2 linked regions of the Homo sapiens genome follow. The protein of the gene in region 1 interacts with the protein of each later gene in a pairwise test. Each region holds a gene or a part of one and is shown in the gene's direction. Other genes may lie near its edges.

Region 1 (5,718 bases):
CTCCATCTCCGAGCTCCAGCATCCCTTGTCAAGGTAAGAAGTGCCAGTTCTCCCAGTGCAGCCAGTTCTCCCCTCTGGTTGGCCCACAGCCCCCTCTCTTCACTCTCTGTCCTAGTCTAGTCACCTCCCATCCCATGAACTGAAACACATTCTTAGAATTTTGCAATTAGAAAATCACTGATGATGTTGGTGCGTGCTAGGTGTCATTGCAAGCTGGAAGTGTCAACTAGGGGTATACACTTTGAGGAGGGCGTGTCAACTAGGGGTATACACTTTGAGGAAGGCTAGTTGGAGAAAAAAGCAGGAAAGTAGCTAGAGAGGGATGAGTTTTAGGAAGGATGTGGTTTGGTTTGGTTTGCTTTGCTTTGCTTTGCTTTAAATAGGAGAGACTTGAGATTTCCTAGGGAAAAGAAGCTGGTAAGGTGTGAGAAGCTAAAGACACTAAAGAGATGGGATAATGAAGAGACAAATCAGCAGGGGTCAAGGGTACACATGGGAGATTCAGCTCTGGGCAGGAAAGACAGTCCCTTATCTGAAGATGATTCAACCAACAATGACAACACTGATGGCTAGGGCTGGATGGCCACATTGAACACAGCCACGTGGTCCCTGCAGTCATGGAGCTTTTAGTGTAGGAAAGAGGAGATGGATGGCAATGGGCACACTGAGTAGGTGGTGCTGGATTCAGAGGCGTTTCTCTTTGTCCCTGCTGCTGCATTTATGACTGTGTCCTGCGTGAGGACATACTCTTGCCCATCAGGCTACCAGCAACTTTCTGGGGCAGGAGCCTATCCTCTCCTATTCCAGCTCTCTTGGGTAGGTGTGCCAGCACCCACAGGGGCCCAGGATGGGGTAGCTCCTCTTTCGGCTGTCCTTCCCTAACCTACTAAGATTCTACTGGGCCTTCCATGGACCTGTCCTGATTCTCTCACCCCAGAACACAAGAAATACTCACTGTCTACACTGTCTGCTGTTGCGGCTGGGGATCAACCCTGATTTAGATTTGGGTCTTCCTGATGCCTCTACCATTTACTGGCTGTATTACCTTGAACAAGTTCTTTAACCTCCATGAGTCCTAGTTTCTCAGTCTGTGAAATGCGATTGATAACACTGATGAACCTTGCTTAGTTCATGGAGTTGTGGAAAGATTCCAGTGAGGTAGATGTGGAAGCCCAGAAGTGTGTGAAAGGGTGTACATGGCAGGGGATTAAGGTAGGCTTTTGATGATCTCCCTGGCTTAATTTGCAGTTCCTCGGAGGGTACCTCATGTAGCATGGGGCATAGTCACTGGCACTCAGTATAAACCTGTGAAGACTGACCTCTCCCATCCTAAAACACTGTCTCCACCTGGAATTAACTGTTGCCCACCTGAAATTAACTGTTGCCCTCCCTATGCTCCGGTGGCTATTGCAGTACAGGCTTGCTCTGTGAAGGGCTTTCACTGTGAAGAGTGTTTAACTGGATGGGCCCCAGGTGGCCCCAGCAGCCTGCCTTCCCTGCTAGTGAGGCCATGGGCTGGTGCATGCCAGCTCTGTCCACTTGAAGGGGGAAGGGTCCATCGTAGGGAGCCAGTGCAGCTGGCAGGGTTCAGGCCTGTGGGCACCGCTGGGGACAAAGCCACTCTGAATGCCTCTCAATGAGTGCTTGTGTTCTGGGAATGGGGGCGGGGTGACATCCAGCCTCTTTCCCTCTCCGCCCCCGACAGGATGTCCCAGGCTGGACGCGGCAGAGGAGGTCCCCCACAAGTGAAGGTCCAGCCCTGCTCCTCCAGGGTTGGCCCATGTGTCTGGGCATTCGGAGGTGGCACCAGGATCAGGGCTTCTGGAGTCCAGCATAGTGATTGGGCCCAGGCCGGGGGCGGGTCCAGGACACAGCCAGGCTTCCCTGGCCGCAGTGCCCAACTGCCCGCAGTGCCCATGGTGGCTCGGATGGGAGGAACCACCGCGGAGCCGGGGACAGGGGGAGCAGGGCAGTGCTCTGCTGGGTGAGGGGCACCCAGCTCCAGAGGCTAGGTGGGCGTCGCTGGTGGGTGGACTCCTGGGCGCTGCGCGGAGCCGCGCCGGCTGGGTTAGCGCGGGCGGGGCGCTTAGTCCCACCCCCAGAGGAGGCGGAAGAGGAGCCCGAGCCTGGCCGCGGGCTGGGCCCCGCCGCAGCTCCAGCTGGCCGGCTTGGTCCTGCGGTCCCTTCTCTGGGAGGCCCGACCCCGGCCGCGCCCAGCCCCCACCATGCCACCCGCGGGGCTCCGCCGGGCCGCGCCGCTCACCGCAATCGCTCTGTTGGTGCTGGGGGCTCCCCTGGGTAAGGGGATGGGGAGAGATGCGGCAGGAGTGGGATGGGGGCGGAGGAAGGGGAGGGACCGATCCGAGGGGCTTGGGCTCGGGGCTTCTCCGAGACCCTCCGGCTGCCACGGGAGCCTTGGGTGTTGCTGGGTCCTCAAGAAGCGGGAAGAGGGAGCTCCAGGATGCTGGGCCATGGGAGGCTGATCCCGGGGTGCAGGGTCAGCTTCAGGCAGAGGCCTCGGGGGCTCTGGGGCTGAGACCCTCAGGGTGGAGACAAGGGGCAACCCTCAGTGTTCGGGAGCCGTCAGGCTGGGGACCGCCGGGGGAGTGGGGCCGAGCGCGGCTGGGGATGAACTGGCCTGGTGGCCACTGGGCACCCCCAATCCCTGCCCGCAGTGCTGGCCGGCGAGGACTGCCTGTGGTACCTGGACCGGAATGGCTCCTGGCATCCGGGGTTTAACTGCGAGTTCTTCACCTTCTGCTGCGGGACCTGCTACCATCGGTACTGCTGCAGGGACCTGACCTTGCTTATCACCGAGAGGCAGCAGAAGCACTGCCTGGCCTTCAGGTGGGTTCCTGCCTCCTCACCCTCACCACCTCCTCTATCCTTTTCTCCAGAGGCCTCCTCTTCCTCCCTCCCGGACTCCTGCCTCCTCCGTTGTCGACCTCCACATTCTTAGCTGAATAGAGTCACCAGGACTCAAGCCTGGCGGCAGAGCTAGGTGCTTAGGTGCTGGTGCCTGGGAGTTCCAGAAAAGGCATGTTAGTTACCTTCATAGGCTTTGACTGGGCCCGGGGTTTCCAGGTTCTTTCTGGAGCCCTCCCTTTGGTCCTGCCAGGTCATGGGGAGGGAGGGTTCAAGGTTAACACCCGGACGACAGTGTAGCTTTGTGGAAGAAGCTCTGGCACAAAGGCAGGAGACTTGGGTTTGATTCCCAGGTCCACTTCTTACTAGCTGTGTGATCTTGGAGAAGACACTTGCCTTCTATGGGTCATTGCTTGCCAAATTAGTGGTTGTCAAACTTTTTTTTAATATATCATATATAAAATAGATATAGAGACTTCTGATTGAAGCGGGGTTTGGAAAAAATGGCTCTAGATTATTTCTAAGGCTCCTTTCAGTGTTATGCTGTATGTCTAATCATTTAAGTTGTAGATATAAAAGCAATGGTTGGGGGCGCACTGCAAATCCCCGTATGCTTCACACTAGCCAGCCAGGCAGCATAGCCTTCTGGGAAGTGGAGGTCCTCTAAGATCTCCTTCACAGGGACTGGGCAGAGCCCCACAAGGAACCCCAAATCTCAGCATGCCATGGCCCCCCTGCTGGCCAGGAGTTGGAGCCAGCATAATGAGGACTCCGTCCTATGAGTGTTGGAAGGTGAGAGGACCTGTTCTTTGTCTAAAGCCCCAAGACCATAGCAGGCATCGCCTCAGCTGTGATCCTCTTTGTTGCTGTGGTTGCCACCACCATCTGCTGCTTCCTCTGTTCCTGTTGCTACCTGTACCGCCGGCGCCAGCAGCTCCAGAGCCCATTTGAAGGTACACCCAGTACTGGGCAAGAAGGGCCTCAGATGGGCTGGGCTAAGTCCAATAATGGGCAGCAGAGAGTTCATGGATTGGGTAAATTCTGTAGTAGTATGTGCTTCTGTATACACACACCTGCCAGCATGAAAACCCAGAAAAATGCTTGTAAACCCGTGAATATTAGAATGTGCCTGGGATATATGGAACATCAGACTTTGTGTGCATTTCTGTGCATACACATGAAGATTCAAATGTGTACAGGAGTGCAGTCTGTCAACAATAGTGGGTGCAGTGGGTGTATGCATACATATGACTCTTAGTAAGTACACGGGGTCAGGTCTGTAGTGATGAACATTAATTGAGTGTGCTCCAGTGGATGGCAAAATATGTGCCTGAGTGTTGGCATGTGATGCACATATGCCACAACCTGATGGACATGGGGACAGTGATGCCATACGGGAGATCAGTGTGGGAGGGAAGGGCTAGGAGAAGACCCTCTTAGTGGCAGCTCTGCTGGATTACAGGATACCAGCCCTGAGCTGTCCCCTTCTTGCCCAAGTGAGATATTCCCTGGGCTGTGCTCCCTGGTTCATGAGGTCTCTGAAACCTGCTGAGGGGAGCAAACTTGCTCAACACAGATTGACCAGCTGGGGCCACGTGCACAGCTCCCTGCTTAACTCTGCCAAGCAGGGTGTGGGAGGCAAAGATGGCCAGCCTGGAGCTTGCCAGAGGCCAGCACCAGGGTGCTTACCTTGGTTTCCTGGGCAGGAGGAGGAGGCTTCCCATAGGAGATGGGTCTCTGAATGCTGATCCTTCTCCCCCATCTAGGCCAGGAGATTCCAATGACAGGCATCCCAGTGCAGCCAGTATACCCATACCCCCAGGACCCCAAAGCTGGCCCTGCACCCCCACAGCCTGGCTTCATATACCCACCTAGTGGTCCTGCTCCCCAATATCCACTCTACCCAGCTGGGCCCCCAGTCTACAACCCTGCAGGTAAGTAAGCAATCTGGAGCCCCTTGCTGCTGCCTTCCCCCACCCCTTGCCCTGCGACCTCCCCTGTGCCTCTCTCATTCTCAGATTCCCTCTCCCAGACTTCCTCCACCTCTAGCCCGAAACCTCCAGGCCCACTCTTCCCTATGGGTCCTGTCTGCCCCGGGGGCAGGGGTGTTACTTTTCGTCCACCTATGCCACCACTCACCCTCATCCTGTCTCTTTGGCTTTCAGCTCCTCCTCCCTATATGCCACCACAGCCCTCTTACCCGGGAGCCTGAGGAACCAGCCATGTCTCTGCTGCCCCTTCAGTGATGCCAACCTTGGGAGATGCCCTCATCCTGTACCTGCATCTGGTCCTGGGGGTGGCAGGAGTCCTCCAGCCACCAGGCCCCAGACCAAGCCAAGCCCTGGGCCCTACTGGGGACAGAGCCCCAGGGAAGTGGAACAGGAGCTGAACTAGAACTATGAGGGGTTGGGGGGAGGGCTTGGAATTATGGGCTATTTTTACTGGGGGCAAGGGAGGGAGATGACAGCCTGGGTCACAGTGCCTGTTTTCAAATAGTCCCTCTGCTCCCAAGATCCCAGCCAGGAAGGCTGGGGCCCTACTGTTTGTCCCCTCTGGGCTGGGGTGGGGGGAGGGAGGAGGTTCCGTCAGCAGCTGGCAGTAGCCCTCCTCTCTGGCTGCCCCACTGGCCACATCTCTGGCCTGCTAGATTAAAGCTGTAAAGACATAACTCATATCAGTCGCATCATTGGACCCATCCACACCTTCCAGGAACACCGCCTTCAGCTGGGCCCAGACTGTTGCCCACTCCATATTCCAAAAGTAGGGGAGGGCCAGCACCAGCATCGGAGCACAGCACCATCCTCACCCCCATCCACAAGCAGACCAAGGCGGACTGTTCCTGGCTTCCTAAAG
Region 2 (4,305 bases), on another chromosome or scaffold:
ACTGTACTCCATCCTGGGTGACAAAGCAAGACACTGCCTCAAAGAAAAAAAAAGAAGAAGAATATGACAAAATCTATAATGTACACCAACAGAGCACTGTGACTTCCCAGTGCTCTGTCACTTGAACAATTTTAAGATCCACTATCTTAGCCAAGCATGGTGGCTCATGCCTGTAATCCCAGCACTTTGGGAGACCAATGAGGTAGGATCACCATATGCCAGGAGTTTAAGACCAGCCTGGGCAACCTAGCAAGATCACATCTATACCAAAAATTTAAAAATCAGGTGAGTGTCATGGCATGTGCCTGTACTCAGGAGGCTGAGGCAGGAGAATCTCTTGAGCCCAAGAGGTTGAGGCTGCAATGAGCTATGATTGTACCACTGCCCTCCAGCCTGGGCAACACAAGAGTGAGACCTTGTCTGTTGGTGGGGGGAAGAAAAAAAGATCCACTGCCTTAAGTTTTGGTGTGATTGATGGGAAATCACCCAGATTACAGTTTGTAAAACTGTATGCAAGTGAACCCTAGTTTATGAAAATCTGATGTTAAAAAATGTATAGGCCAGGTGTGATGGCTCACGCCTGTAATCCCAGCACTTTGGGAGGCTGAGACGGGTGAATCACCTGAGGTCAGGAGTTTGAAACCAGCCTGGCCAACATGATGAAACCCTGTCTCTACTAAAAATACAAAATTAGCCGGGTGTGGTGGCTCATGCCTGTAATCCCAGCTACTTGGGAGGCTGAGGCAGGAGAATCGCTTGAACCTGGAAGGTGGAGGTTGCAGTAAGCCGAGATCGCGCCATTGCACTGCAGCCTGGGCAACAAGAGCGAAACTCTGTCTCAAAAAATAAAATAAAAAGTATAAACTAACAAATTGGGGTGGGAGGAGGTAATAGACTATTTTTCAAGAACAATTTTACAGAAAAATTGAGAAGATAGTACAGAGATGGACGTTTCTCAAAAAACAAAAAATAGAACTACTAGACAATCCAGCAATCCCACTACTGAGTGTTTATCCAAAGAAAAAGAAATGAATATATTGAAGAGACATCTGCACTCCCATGTTACTGCAGCACTATTCACAATAGCCAAGAAATGGAATAACCTTAAGTGTCCATCTACAAATGAATGGATACAGAAAATATGGTTCATATACATAATGGGATATTATTCAGCCATAAAAAAGCATGAAATCCTGTCATTCGTGACATAGACAGAATTGGAGGTCATTATGTTAAGTGAATAAGCTGAGCACAGAAAGACAAATATTGCATGTTCTCACTCATATTTGAGGGCTAAAAAAGTGAAACTCATAGAGGTAGAGAATAGAATGAGTTACCAGAGGCTGGGATCCAGGGGCAGGAGGATGAAAAGAGGCTGGTTCATAGGTACAAACATATGGTCACATAGAAGGAATAAGTTCTAGTGTTCAACAGCACAGTAGGGTGACTATAGTTAACAACAATATATTGTATTTTTCAAAATAAATTTAAAAGGCTTCTAACACAAATGATAAATGTTCAAGGTGGTGGATGTTCTAAATACCCTGATTTGATCATTAAACATTGTACACATGTATCAAAATATCATATGTATCCCATAAATACATACAATTTACATATATCAATTAAAAACATTTTAAGATAGTATTGAGAGTTCCTATATACCCCATACTCTGTTTTCCCTGTTATTAACACATTAGTATGATACATTTGTTGTAATTAATAGTATTATCATTATGGTCTACACTTTATTGGTTTTTTTTTTCATTTTTATTTAATATCCTTCTGTTCCAGAATCCTATTCAAGATACTACATTACTTTTTTCTTTCTTTTTTTTGAGACAGGGTCTTGCTGTGTCACCCAGGCTGGAGTGCAGTGGCACAATCATGGCTCACTGCAGCCTCAACCTCCTGGGGTCAAGCGATCCTCCTCCCACCTTAGCCTCCCAAGTAGCTGGGACTACAGGCATGCACCACCATACTCAGATTATTTTTATTTTTATTTTTATTTTTTGTAGAGATGAGGTCTACGTTGCCTAGGCTGGTCTCAAACTCCTGAGCTCAAACCATCCTCCCCGCTCGACCTCCCAAAGTTCTGGGATTCCAGGCGTGGCCCACCATGTCCTGCCCTACATTACATTTAGTTGTCATGTCTCCTTAGGTTCCTCTTGGCTGTGACAGTTTCCTAGACTTACCTTGTTTTTAATGACCTTGACAGTTTTGGGAAGTGCTGGTCAGGTATTTTGTAGAATGTCCCTTTATTGGAACTTGCCTGCTGTTTTACTCATCATTGTAATACTGGGGTTATGGCTTTTGGGAGGAAGACCAGAGAAGTCAAGTGCCATTTTCATCACATCACATCATATCATATCATACAAGTGATTCAGCAACATGATCATTGTTGATGTTGGCCTCGATCGCCTGGATGAAGTAGTGTTTATCAGGTTCCTCCGCTGTAGAGTTAGCCTTTCTCCCCATGTTCCACACTGTGCTCTTTGGAAGAAAGTCACTATGCACAGTCTGCACTGAAGGAGTAAGGAGTTAAGCTCTACCTCTTTGAGGATGGAGTACCTACATGAATTATTTGAAATTCTTCTATGTAGGAGATTTGTCTTTTCTCTGCTATTCATTAAGTCACTTATTTATATCAGCATGGGCCCACAGATGTGTATTTTTTATTTTGGGTAATAATTCAATATTTCTTTATTTCGGTGCTCAAATTGTTCTAGCCTTGGCCATTGGGAGCTCTTTCAGTTGGCTTCTGTGTCCCTTTGGGATGCTCACATTGATGAGGATACTGATGTGGGGAATTCATTTTTGTTTCTTCGTGAGCATTTCCTTTCTTTGGGGCACTACAAGATGCTCTAGGCTCATCTCGTGCCTTTCCTGCCCCCATCCTAGAATCAGCCACTTCTCCAAGGAGCCCAGGGGATGGCTATTTTCATTACAAGGTGATCATTCACCTTTCATAGGGATAATGGTACTGGTGTGTGCAAATTATTTTATATAATTTGACTGACAACTTTTCAGGAACATACATTTTGCTAAAAGCTAGACTCAGCCATTTTAAAAGTTGTATCTAGCTCTTAGAAGTTTCCAGCCAGGCTTCATTCTAGTCGGAATGTGAAAAGCTATCCAAAGAAGAGAAATGTCTTTATCTCCATCCTCATCGTGAAAGGAGGTCATTCATGATATTGTGAGGTGCCATAAGGATTTTACAGAAAATTCTAGCATAGTGGAAAGAGTTCCAGAATGAGATTGGGAGGTTGGATTTGGTCCAGATGGTGCACTGCACCCATATGCACTTGGTTAAATGTTACTTCCGCTCTTTTGGCCTCATCTATAAAAAGAGGTGAGTGGCCAAAACCCATTTCTAAGGTTCTGTTCACCTCCAAACGTGATGCTATGAACAGCAGCAGCAGCACTAACTTTGGAATGGCAGTAGCTTTGAGGAATCCAGGGTGGGAAGTGGGGGCAGGAATGGGGGTGTGCAAGGTCAAGCTGTGAAATGCAGAATTTGAGAGCTTAGGGGAGAGATATCATTAGTGATCATATTAAATATTAATAATAATATTAAAGACTTAATCTTGATTTTAATGTAGCCTGTATCTGTGGCTCTAGATCCCTGGCTGATTATTCTTTAGGCTTGTAGGTTCTCAAGCTTGGCTGCACATTGAAATAACCTGGAACACATTCAGAAATACTGTTGCCTAGGTCCCAATGCCAAAGATTCTGATCGACTTGGTTTGGGATGCAGCCTAGGCATTAGCAGTTTTTTAAGCCTCTCCCCCAACAACCCTAAGTCCCAGGCGATTCTAATGGCAGCCAAAGTTGAGCATGTGCTTTCAGCTATAAACGCTCTTGTCCCTCCACCATATCCACGCATGGATTAAGGGTCCTCAGTGTACCATCTGCATAGCAGCAGATGAATTGGATCTGGACAGTGTATTAGTTTCCTGTTGCTGCTGTAACAAATGACCGCAAACTTAGTGGCTTAAAACAACACACATTAATTTTCTTATATTTCTGGTGGCCAGAAGGCCAAAACAGGTTTCACCGGGCTAAAATCAAACAGATCTCGCTGGGCTAAAATACAGCAGCCCCGCATTCCTTCGGGAAGTGCTAGGAAGAGCTCGCCTCCTTGCCTGCTCCAGCTGTTAGAGGCAGCCCTCATTCCTCCATCCGTGGCACCACAGCAGTCCAGCCTCTGCCTCCATCACCGTCTCCTTCTCTGACTCTGGCCCTCTTGCCTCCTTCTTAGAAGGTCTTTTATGATTATACTGAGTCCTCAGGGATAATTTCCCT

The links. Proteins that work in one complex are often made in the same cells at the same time.
Region 2: the proteins of SHISA4 (region 1) and TSPAN33 interact in binary tests that used the Homo sapiens proteins (3 or more experiments, as listed by UniProt).

The regions. Positions count from the first base shown.
Region 1 is NC_000001.11:201,886,770-201,892,487, forward strand, and holds the start of SHISA4 (protein shisa-4 precursor), read left to right. Parts: upstream 1-2,128; 5' UTR 2,129-2,225; coding exon 2,226-2,298; intron 2,299-2,675; coding exon 2,676-2,847; intron 2,848-3,684; coding exon 3,685-3,818; intron 3,819-4,631; coding exon 4,632-4,799; intron 4,800-5,030; coding exon 5,031-5,077; 3' UTR 5,078-5,718.
Region 2 is NC_000007.14:129,153,902-129,158,206, forward strand, and holds part of TSPAN33 (tetraspanin-33), read left to right. Parts: intron 1-4,305. UniProt on the Homo sapiens protein: Part of TspanC8 subgroup, composed of 6 members that interact with the transmembrane metalloprotease ADAM10.